Homo sapiens: one gene and its partners. The protein of the gene in region 3 purifies or fractionates together with the protein of the main gene of each other region. This does not show direct contact. Each region holds a gene or a part of one and is shown on either strand. Other genes may lie near its edges.

The links. Proteins that work in one complex are often made in the same cells at the same time.
Region 1: the proteins of ABCA1 (region 3) and KIF11 purify together in Homo sapiens (co-immunoprecipitation; one study listed by IntAct). This does not show direct contact.
Region 2: the proteins of ABCA1 (region 3) and DTNB purify together in Homo sapiens (pull-down; one study listed by IntAct). This does not show direct contact.

Annotation. Positions count from the first base shown.
Region 1 is NC_000010.11:92,595,997-92,599,990, forward strand, and holds part of KIF11 (kinesin-like protein KIF11), read left to right. Parts: intron 1-862; exon of another isoform or gene 863-1,293; intron 1,294-3,994. UniProt on the Homo sapiens protein: Motor protein required for establishing a bipolar spindle and thus contributing to chromosome congression during mitosis. Required in non-mitotic cells for transport of secretory proteins from the Golgi complex to the cell surface.
Region 2 is NC_000002.12:25,379,800-25,383,710, forward strand, and holds part of DTNB (dystrobrevin beta), read right to left. Parts: intron 1-3,911.
Region 3 is NC_000009.12:104,812,928-104,816,921, forward strand, and holds part of ABCA1 (phospholipid-transporting ATPase ABCA1), read right to left. Parts: intron 3,419-3,994; coding exon 3,216-3,418; intron 1,549-3,215; coding exon 1,500-1,548; intron 1,305-1,499; coding exon 1,191-1,304; intron 1-1,190. UniProt on the Homo sapiens protein: Catalyzes the translocation of specific phospholipids from the cytoplasmic to the extracellular/lumenal leaflet of membrane coupled to the hydrolysis of ATP.

The sequences.
Region 1 (3,994 bases), on a different chromosome or scaffold from region 3:
CTTTTTTTGTTGTTGTTGTTTTTGAGACCGAGTCTCGCTCTGTTGCCCAGGCTGGAGTGCAGTGGCGCGGTCTTGGCTCACACTGCAAGCTCCATCTCCCGGGTTCACGCCATTCTCCTGCCTCAGCCTCCCAAGGAGCTGGGACTACAGGCGCCTGCCATCTCTCCCGGCTAATTTTTTGTATTTTTAGTAGAGACGGGGTTTCACCATATTAGCCAGGATGGTCTCCATCTCCTGACCTTGTGATCTGCCCGCCTTGGCCTCCCTAAGAGCCGGGATTACAGGCGTGAGCTACGGAGCCCGGCCTTGAGTTACTTCTTACTTTTAGCTATTATGAATAATGTTGCTATGAATATGGGTTTTCAATTCTTTTGGGTATTTACCCAGAATTGTAATTGCTGGATCATATGATAATTCTATTTTAAAGTTTTTGAGGAACCGACAAACTATTTTCCACAGTGGCTGGACCATTTTACATTCCTACCAACAGTGCATAAGGGTTCCAATTTCTCCACATCCTCACCAACGTTTATTTTCTGTTTCTTTTTTTTTTTTCAAGTAGCCATCCATTGGGTGTGAGGTGCTATCTCATTGTAGTTTTGATTTGTATTTCCCTAATGATTAATGATGTTGAGCATCTTTTCATGTGTTTACTGGCCATTTTGTGTATCTTTGGAGAAATGTCTGTTTAAGTCCTTTGCCCATTTTTAAATTGGTTTGCTTTTTTGTTGTTGAGTTTTAGGAATTTTCTATATATTTTGGATATTTTCAGATACATAAACGGCAAAAATTTTTTCCCCATTACTGTGGTTTGCCTTTTTACTCATTGATACCGTGTGGTCTTTTCCTTTCTTTTTCTTTTTGGAACCAGTGCATGGCCTCTTTGTTGATTCTGTGTTTGGCCCCAGTGCAGCCTGTTCTGTGCTATGTGTCTGCAGTGCTGAAACCAGGCCTACCCAGCACCATACAGAAGTCCAGGCTGTAGATACCAATGCATGGGTCACATTTGATACCCAAATCTGTGTGTTCCTGGATCTCCAAACCAAAGTTTCCAGTATCTGAGAAGTTGTTCTTTCTTGATTCACACTCCTGCATCTTTAGACCTTTCTTCAGGGTTTCTTCTGCTTTGGCCCTTTGTGCAGTGGGTGGCAATCTTCACTTCTCCTGATGCCAAAGGATCTGACAATGTATTTGACTTTGGAGAACACAGGGGTCTGGCCTATGAGCTGCTCCAACACCTTGGCTGCTGGGGTCAGTCATCTCCAGTCTCCTCCATACAGATGTTGAGACAGAAAATCGTTCTGTCACCCAGGCTGGAGTGCAGTGGCACAGTCTCGGCTCACTGTAACCTCTGCCTGTCAGGTTCAAGCAATTCTTATGCTTCAGCCTCCCAAGTATCTGGGATTACAGGTGTGCACCACCATGCCTGGCTAATTTTTTGTATTTTTAGTAGAGATGGGGTTTCGCCTTGTTGGCCAGGCTGGTCTTGAACTACTGGCCTCAAGTGATCCACCCATTTTGGCCTCCCAAAGTGCTGGGATTATGAGTGTGAGCCCTCATCTGGCCAGAGTTCTCTTTTTTTTACCTTGATCTTGCACTATGATGGAGAAAAGGAAGATAAAGTCTTTTTTTTTCCCTTGGGTTTGTTTGTTTGTTTGTTTGTTTGTTTTTTGAGACGGAATTTTGCTCTCGTTGCCTAGGCTGGAGTGCATTGGTACGATCTTGGCTTACTGCAACCTCCGCCTCCTGGGTTCAAGCCATTTTCCTGCCTCAGCCTCTAGAGTAGCTGGGATTACAGGCATGCGCCACCACGCCTGGCTAATTTTGTATTTTTAGTAGAGATGGGGTTTCACCATGTTGGTCAGGCTGGTCTTGATCTCCTGATCTCAGGTGATCCGTCCACCCTGGCCTCCCAAAGTACTGGGATTACAGGCGTGAGCCCGTGCCTGGGCTATTTTTTTTTTCTCCCCTTTAAATATAGTATCTTGCTTTATTGCCCAGACTTGTTGTGAACTCCTGGACTCAAATAGTCCTCCTACCTCAGCCTTCCAGGTAGCTGGGATCACAGGGATGCTGTCTTTTGATACACAAACATTTTAAATTTTTATGAAGTCCAGTTTGTCTTTTTGTTTTTGTTCCCTGTATCTTTGGTGTTATATCCAAGAAATCATTGCCAAATCCATTGTTGTGAAGCTTTTGCCTTATGTTTTCTTCTAAGAGTTTTATAGCTTTAGGTCTTACATACATTTTTGATCCATTTTGAGTTAATATTTGTATATTGTGTTAGATAAGGGTCCAACCTCATTCTTTTGCATATGGATATTTAGTTTCCCAGCACCATTTGGTGAAAAGCTTGTCTTTTTCTGATTGAATGGTCTTGGCAACCTTATTAAAAATCATTTGCTCATATGTAAGAGGGCTTATTTCTAAGTGCTGTTATGTTCCATTGGTCTATAAGTCTGTCTTTATGTCAGTACCACATGGTTTTGATTATTGCAGCTTTGTAGTAAGTTTTGAAATCAGGAAGTGTGAGTCCTCCAGCTTTGTTCTTTTTCAAGATTGTTTTGGCTATCTGGACTCCCTTGGGATTCCATATGAATTTGAGGATGAATTTTTCTATTTTTGTAAAACACGTCATTGGGATTTTAATAGGGATTACATTGAATCTATAGATCACTTTGGGTAGTATTGGCATCTTAACAATATTAAGTCTTTCAGTTCATGAACAAGGGATGTGTTTCCATTTATTTATGCCCCTTAATTTCTGCCAGCAGTTTTTTTTTGTTTGTTTTTGTTTTGAGATGGAGTTTCGCTCTTGTTGTCCAGGCTGGAGTGCAGTGGCACAATCTTAGCTCATTGCAACCTCCACCTCCCGAGTTCAAGTGATTCTCCTGCCTCAGCCTCCTGAGTAGCTGGGATTACAGGTATGTGGCACCACGACCAGCTAATTTTTGTATTTTTACTAGAGACAAAGTTTCACCATGTTGGTCAGGCTGGTCACGAACTCTTGACCTCAGGTGATCCACCCACCTTGGCCTCCCAAAGTGCTGGGATTATAGGCGTGAGCCACTGCGCCTGGCCTCAGCAGTGTTTTATAGTTTTCATTTTATAAGTCTTTCACCTCCTTGGTTAAATTAATTACTAATATTTTATTCTTTTTGGTGCTATTTTAAATTGAGTTGTTTTTGTAATTTCCTTTTTAGATTGTTCATTCTTAGTGTATAAAAATGTAACTGGAGGCTGGACGCAGTGGCTCTCACCTGTTATCCCAGCACTTTGGGAGGCAAGGTGGGCCTCCCAACTCCTGATCACGAGATCAGGAGTTCAAGGCCAGCCTGGCCAACATAGTGAAACCCTGTCTCTACTAAAAATACAAAAATTAGCCATGCATCGTGGCGCGTGCCTGTAGTCCCAGCTACTTAGGAGGCTGAGGCAGGAGAATCGCTTGAACCTGGAAGGTGGAGGTTGTGGTGAGCCAAGATCGTGCCACTGTACTCCAGCCTGGGCAACAGAGTGAGACTCTGTCTCAAAAAAAAAAAAAAAGAAAAAAGAAACGTCGCTGGATTTTGCTTGTTGACTTTCTATCCAGCTACTTTGCTGAATTCACTTATTAGTTCTAACAGTTTTTTTTTGTGTGTGTGTAATTTTAGAGTTTTCTTTTCTTTTTTTTTTTTTGAGATGGAGTCTCGCTTTGTTGCCAGGCTGGAGTGCAGTGGCGCGATCTCGGCTCACTGCAACCTCTACCTCCCAGGTTCAAGCAATTCTCCTGCCTCAGCCTCCCGAGTAGCTGGGACTACAGGCACACGCTACGACGCCCAGCTAATTTTTGTATTTTTAGTAGAGACGGGGTTTCACCATGTTGGCCAGGATGGTCTCGATCTCTTGACCTCGTGATCCACCTGCCTCAGCCTCCCAAAGTTCTGGGATTACAGCCGTGAGCCACTGTGCCTGGCTTTTTTTTTTTTTTAATTAACTATTGAACTTCTGTTTATTA
Region 2 (3,911 bases), on a different chromosome or scaffold from region 3:
ACCAGGGCTCTTTATGGATGCAAACTGGATTTACAGCCCCCACACCGGGATGGCAGGGTATGGGAGGGGAGACTGTGAAGGACACAGGAGCATAACATGAGGCTGTGGAGGGTGGAGATGATGTACTATGGGGGAAGGTGTGTTAGTCTGTGCTTCTTCTATGTGTCTTGGTTACACTTCTCTTGAGGAGATGCAGAGGAGGAAGGGTACCCCGATGGAGCAGAAGCATTCCCCAGGATGCAGCCAGCCAGCCAGGGGTGAACAGGGAGAGGCGTGAGGCAGGGGTGAATATGGCAGGGAAGTTCAGCTTGGTCTAGATTCTTCAAAAGTTCCATTTGACTCTCACAGTTTCCTTATCGAGCAGACTATGTTTGCCTGATGGTGCTGACCAAATTCTGTTTATATTACGTCAGTATGGTTTCAACCCCAAAGAAGCAAATATACTCTCTCTCTTTACGGTTGACAGTTACAGATCTCTGGTGTCCAGGTGACTGCAGTTAGTCCTAGGTCTGTAAAATCTCAGGCCTAGCTCATGGCAGAGAATCAGGAGGTCCACCCATAAAAACACTTAGTCTTATAAAAATGCCCATGTATGAGCTACGTTGTAGTTTCAGGGACATATCCTAGAACCTATATAATGTGGAGAGCCAAACATAAAAAACTCTACCATCTCTCACCCCAACTCTTAACACTCTTGGCCTTAGGGATGACACCAGAAAGTCACATACGTAAAAATTCAGGCATTCCCACAAAAAGATTTCACATAGACATACAGACATTCTGGTATATGCACTGAAAGACAGACAAGGAGCTCTAAGGGCAAGAGGCACAGAAAGACAGAAGAGATGCAGACAGGGCAGTGCAGGTGTAAAGACAGTGCCCTGGGGCCTGGAGTGCCGGGAAAGGGAAACCCAGTCTGATGCGAACAGGGCAGTGCACGTGCAGAGACAGTGCCCTGGGGCCTGGAGGCCCGGGCGAGGGAAACCCAGTCTGATGTGGACAGTGGAGTGCAGGTGCAAAGACAGCACCTTGGGACCTGGAGGCCCGGGCAAGGGAAACCCAGTTTGATGTGGACAGGGGAGTGCAGGTGCAGAGACAGCACCCTGGGGCCTGGAGGGCTGGGCAAGGGAAACCCAGTCTGATTCCCATGTGAGGCATGGCCCACACTCAGACTCGAACCAGGATAAGGGCTAGAGTTCGTGGCCAGGGCAAGGCCTCAGTGGCTGGGGCAGTCCTAGGTTTGCTTTGGTGGAGTGAAAAGGACTGAGGAGAGGCCATGGGAAAAAGCTACTGGGGAAGGGAGGGGCAGGTGAAGGGAGGCCAGAGATGCAGCTGTTATGTCTTCAGCCAGGAACATTCCACATGAATGCTAGGATTTGGTTGGCATGTGCATGTGCATGTGCGTGTGCGTGTGTGTGCGCGTGTTTGCAGCATGTGTTTACACCAGTGTAAATTTATCTGTGTATCTCTTCACCTTTTGCCCTCCTGCCTTCTTTCTTGTCTGTGTGGGTAAGTCAATTGTTTCTACATTTCTATGAAGCATTCCTGGATGTCTGAAACACTACTGCTCTCTAATGTGACCTTTTATTTTTATTTTTTAGATAGGGCTTTGCTCTGTTATCCAGGCTGGAATGCAGTGGCGTGACTATAGCTCACTGCAGCCTTAAACTCCTGGGCTCAAGCAGTCCTCCTGCCTCTGCCTCCAAAGCAGCTGGGACTACAGGTGTGCACTACCACATCCGGCTAATTTATTTTTTGTAGAGATGGGGTCTTGCTATGTTGCCTATGCTGGTCTCAAACTCCTGGCATCAAGTGATCCCCCTGCCTCAGCCTCCTAAAGTGCTGGGATTACAGGTGTAAGCCACCATGCCCAGCCTAGTCTGACCTTTTGGTGTCCGTGCCACATATGTCATTCTCATCAACTCGTTGGCGCTGCTGTCCACTTCCTCCCAGGCCTAGCTCAGACTCACTAGACGATTTCAGAATCTGCAGAATCTTCTTCCTCTTCTCCCAGTTTCTTCCTCAGCAATTTCAGGGTCCTTGCTGACAAATTCCTTGCCCCGTGAGACTCCAAAGACGACCCTGTCTTAGCCACTCCAGCCCCTATGGGCCAAGAATGCTCCAGACCCACTGTCCTGTAGGTTTCCCTTTCTTGTCACAGCTTCCTTACCTGTATCTCCCACTTGGCTTCTACCCTTCCTTAAGTAAGACCACTCCACTTCCCTTAGTCTACCAGTTCAGCTCAGACTAAACCATGGGCATTGGAGTTGAACTCAGGCTGTGCCATTTATCAGCTGGCAGGTTCTTTCACTCCCCCGAGCCTTGTTCAGAATTCCTCCCTGGGAGGGCTGCTGCTGGCTCCTCCTCATGCTTCCTGCTCTCCCTACCTTCACCTCCTTGGGGTGACCAGCCATTGCATTTCTCTCCCCGATAAGGTACTCTCTATCTCATCACCCCATTTATTTCCTTTGATTTGTTCATTTATTGACCTCCTACTAAGCACCAGGCACTGGAACACAACATGAACAAAACAGACTAAAATCTCTGCCTTGAGGAGCTGATGTTTAGGAGGAATCCAGCAACTAACACATTAATGCACAACAGAAAGAACAGCTCACCCTCAAATGTCCAAAGAAAATTTTGTTTTCTGTTCAGTATAACATAGAAGGATGAAGATTAAGAGCACGAAGTTTGGAGTCAGAAAGACCCAGTTCTCTGCCTTTTTTTTTTTTTTTTTTTTTTTTTTTGAGACAGAGTCTCTCTTTGTTGCCCAGGCTGGAGTGCAGTTGCGTGATCTTGGCTCACTGCAACCTCTGCCTCCTGAGTTCAAGGGATTCTCCTGCTTCAGCCTCCCGAGTAGCTGCGATTACAGGCATGCACCACCACACCTGGCTTATTTTTGTATTTTTAGTAGAGACAGGGTTTCACCATGTTGGCCAGGCTGCTCTCGAATTCCTGGCCTCAAGTGATCCGCCCGCCTCGGCCTTCCAAAGTGCTGGGATTACAGGTGTGAGCCACCACGTCTGGCCTAAATCTCTGCCGTTTAACAGCTACATGAACAACATCTCTCTGAGCCTATTTCCTCATGGGTAAAATGGGGATATTCGAATCTGTCTCACAGTGTTAAGGATTAGATGAGATCATCATACGTGAAAATCATTCCCTGCAGCTCTTCCCAGATGTCATGTGTTAAGCAGGTTCGATATATAATGAAACTAGGAAGGCACTACTGTCCTTTGCTGACACCTTCCCTTCTTGGTTTTATTCTTCCATGAAGCCACAAAACCATTTGGCTATTCTAGTCCACAACAATCTCTTCCTTTTCAGAAACCCTTATTATACTTATATGCTGAAAGTTTTATGATTAGCTTTTTCTGCCACTTCATTTGATCTATTTATTTTGCATTTTTGGTCTTTTTTTTTTTTTTTTTTGGAGATGGAGTTTCACTCTTGTTGCCCAGGACGGAGTGCAGTGGTGTGATCTCGGCTCACTGCAATCTCTGCCTCCCAGGTTCAAGTGATTCTCCTGCCTCATTCTCCCCAAGTAGCTGGGACTACAGGCGCCTGCCACCACACCTGGCTAATTTTTTGTATTTTTAGTAGAGATGAGGTTTCACTATGTTGGCCAGCCTGCTGGTCTTGAACTCCTGACCTTGTGATCCACCCGCCTCAGCCTCCCAAAGTGCTGGGATTACAGGCGTGAGCCACCGCACCTGGCCTGGTCTTGCTTTATTAACTAGATCATAAACTTCTCCAGTCAAAGGGTCATCTTTTGTGTTCTACTTGTATCTACTTCCTGTATCCCAACTACCTATCCCAGGATCAGGAAATGAGGAAGCTCTTGGTGATCGACTGACCTTGTCACCTGGAAGGTAAAACCTGACTGTCAGATGGGAAAAGTAGGTACAGGG
Region 3 (3,994 bases):
AGTCCTTGTCTGATAAGTACAGAAAAGAAAGGTGTCTTGAGACAACTGAAAAGAGGTGTTCATGCGTAACCAGGTGTTACAGCCAGCCATTCGGATGAATCAAGTCATCAATTTCTTATAGACTACTCTATGAAACAGGCCATGTACGTAGCTTGACATATTTGAGAATACACAATGGCAATTAGCATCTCAGCTTCTCACCCTATTATATTTTGGTAAAACGTGGACACATTTCAAATGATCTAAGTACTGATACTGTATGAAGTCAGGCAGTTATATATAATGTAAGAGCCATACACTCTTTGAGCAGGGGTGAGAGAACTGGAAAGTTTTCTGTTCCTAAAAATTTTCTAGAAATCCTTGTCCTAAACTAATGATACCTAACTGATGTGCTTTTACATCTTAACAATATTTGTTTGATGTCTTAGCTCTCCTCTCCATCTCAGTTAAACACACAAAGACACACTCATCCAAAATATCTAATTCTTTTTTTTTCTTTTTTGAGATGGAGTTTTCACTCTTGTTGCCCAGTCTGGAGTGCAATGGCGCAACCGTGGCTGACTGCAACCTCTGCCTCCTGGGTTCAAGCGATTCTCCTGCCTCAGCCTCCCAAGTAGCTGGGATGACAGGCATGTGCCACCACACTCGGCTAATTTTTTGTATTTAGTAGAGACGGGGTTTCACCTTGTTGGTCAGACTGGTCTCAAACTCCTGACCTCAGGTGATCTACCCACCTCAGCCTCTCAAAGCGCTGGGATTACTGGCATGAGCCACCATGCCCAGCCTCAAATATCTAAGTCTTAGGGTACAATTAACTCTAACAGCAAATTCCCCTTTCTGACTCTTTCAAAATCACTCATCTACTCGAATGAATATTTGTTCAACAATTAAACACCTAATGTATACAAGAAACTAGGACCCCGCAGAAAAGATAATAAATACATGGGTTCAGAGGATTGAGGCACCATCTTTATGTCTTTAAAGGAAGTGATATGGATAGGCTCTTTCAGGTTTGATCACATGCACGATGCTGCAAAGAACAAGTGGCTTTTACCATTTCCTCACTTCTCTTTGGACTCTGTAGGGATCTATCACCTTGGCTAAAGGCCATCCAAAGAAAACAGGTGAGAGCATGAGAGAGAATTTCACATTCAAACAGTAGGACACTGTTTGATCTTGCCCTAACAGACCTGGGTCTATGTCAGAATCATTTGGATCAGCAGCATCATCTTCAGTGAACGGGCGAAGACAGCTCTGCTTGTCCCCGAAGGCCCGCCTGTTTCGTCTTGCTGGCAAGGTACCATCTGAAGGCACAAGGAAAGAATCCCATACTTTATTTTATTTACAACAAAACAAACCTTCCCCATCTGCAACAAACCTACACTCTACAAATGAGAATGCAATAGAACAATTCAAAGGGAAAGGAACAATACTCGTGCACTGAGAAAGCCAGCAGAAGGCACTATCTTAAGTGTGCCATTCTCCCTCAAGGCAGTTACCTGAGGTCTCAGCATCCACCCCACTCTCTTCGGCCACCTTGAGGAATATCTGGAAAATGAGAGAGATGAGAACATTATAAGCACCAACATTACGAGAGTAGTCACCACTGCCACGATTATTATATTACTGAGTGGCATGTTAGCCCCGTAAGACAGAGAAAGTAGAAGCCACATTTCTTAATAACACTTTCTCAGAGTTACCTGGGAGAGAAGCCGTTTTTGCCAGAGAACATTTCCTCAGTGGTGAGAGCTATCAAGCTAGACAATCATTTTCAAATTAAAGTTATGGCTGAGCGCTGTGGCTCAGGCCTATAATCCCAGCACTTTGGGAGGCCGAGGCGGGCAGATCACCTGAGGTCTGGAGCTCGAGACCAGCCTGACCAACATGGATAAAACCCATCTCTACTAAAAATACAAAATTAGCTGGGCGTGGTAGCACATGCTTGTAATCTCAGCTACTTGGGAGGCTGAGGCAGGAGAATCGCTTGAACCTGGGAGGTGGAGGTTGCAGTGAGCCAAAATCGCACCACTGCACTCCAGCTTGGGCAATAAGAGCAAAACTCCAGTCTCATCAAAAATAAAAAAAAATTTAAAAAAAGCTATGACAGACACTGCGCAGAAGAAATTTATTCTGAACCTACAGGGAATGAGTCAAGTGGCTTCTTTCAGGACTGTGGCTCTAAATCTTTGAGTAGGCTAGTACTATGATAAGTTATCCAAGACAGAATGAGCAGGAGGAAATAGAGCACTAGAAATATGATGGCAGCAATTCAAACATCAGAAGAGAATCTGAATGAGCGCAATCATTTCCAAACTCTAGTCTATAGACCACTGTGTCCAAAGTATGCAATAGAAATACAGACTTCAAGGCCTCACCTCCAGAAATTCTGATTCACAGGCCCTGAAGCCAAACCTTAGTATGTTTATTTTTAATAATATCCCCAGGTGATTCTGCTGCACTGTCAAGCTTGGAGACCACTTGGCCAGACAGCTTTTATATCCCCTTCAGCCTTCAAGGTCTGTGATGTTGTATCTCTAAGGGGAGGCATTACATGGATAAAGAGAGGATGGACTTTGAAGCCCCAAACCCCTGATTCTGAATCTCATGTCAGCATTCCTGAGTGTTCATTTTTTCATCTTTTTTTGAGAATTAAATGAGGTCACAGTGATTAAAAAAAAATCAAAAAACAAAAAACAAATCTCAGCACCTGGCACAAGTAGACTATCCATCCATAAACGTTTGTCATTTCCTATGTATGAGAATCCAGTTGATACCTGGCTGTGACACAGTCACACCAGAGAATTGCTCCTGATTCTGATTCAGTAGGTCTGAGCTGGGCCCAAGTTGCTGAATTTCTAACAAGTTCCCAAGTGATCCTGATGCCGCTGTTCCTCACACTGTACTTAAGTAAAGAGGCTCATTAAAGGGTAAATAAGTGCATAGGAGTTTAAGGTTGGGATGTAAATGTGTTAGGTACCACTGGTTTCAACACACAAATCTCAGGCATGTACTGTGGTACAGAGGAAAACACTTCTTTCCTGCTATCTCCCACTACCATCTTAAATGGCTCACTGGGGCCAACATTAATCAGATGTCGATGACCTAAAAACTCAATGACTAACTCCATGATAATCCTGCTCCCAATGCAGGCTACTGGTCTGGCCTTAGGACATTTGGCCTTGCTATATATTCCGACAGTCAGCCACTTAACTTACTTCTTCCAGGGTCGTCTCTGAGATGCCATAACTAGAAATGCCCAGGTCTGAGAGCCGGTCATCAATCTCATGAAAGAGTTCCACAAAGGCTCCCTCCTTAGCAGCTTCATATGGCAGCACATAGGTCAGCTCATGCCCTATGTCTTCCACCAGCCGGGCTTCAGACACATGCTTCCTGATGAGGTTGGAGATAGCAGAGACATCTGCAGGGACCAGAATGCAAAGATGGCTCAATCAACTCAGAGGGGCTTCGGAGTGAGGGCTGGCCATCCCCCACCCTCTCATCAGAGGCCTGCCGCTCATACACCACACCTGTTCCAGGTGTTTAGGTCATTCCACATGTTCATCTCTGGTCTGAGGGTTGGGGGCAAAGGAAAGGACTATGTCTTATTCACCTTTGTATCACCAAAGCCAGGCACATTATAGGTACTCAGTGTAGAATGGGTGGACAGCTGGATGGGTGGATGGGTGAATGGGAGGATGGGAGGATGGAAGGATGGGTGGGTGGGTGGGTGGATGGGTGAATGGATAACTGAGGCTCAAAGTCTGGTGTCTATTGCCTAAGCTCTGGGATTCTTCAAAAGAAAACTTGAGTAAAGGAATCTTAAAAGATTCTTCACCCTTTCCTATGCTTATAAAGTAGGTTCCCTCATTTACCTAAATAAAGGGTTAATCTAACAGTCCATGGAAGCAGAAGCCTTCCTGGGAAAAGCCAGCCATTAGGACTAGGCAGAGATAGCAAGGGTCAAGACTTCTGTTCCACATATGCTACTGGTGAC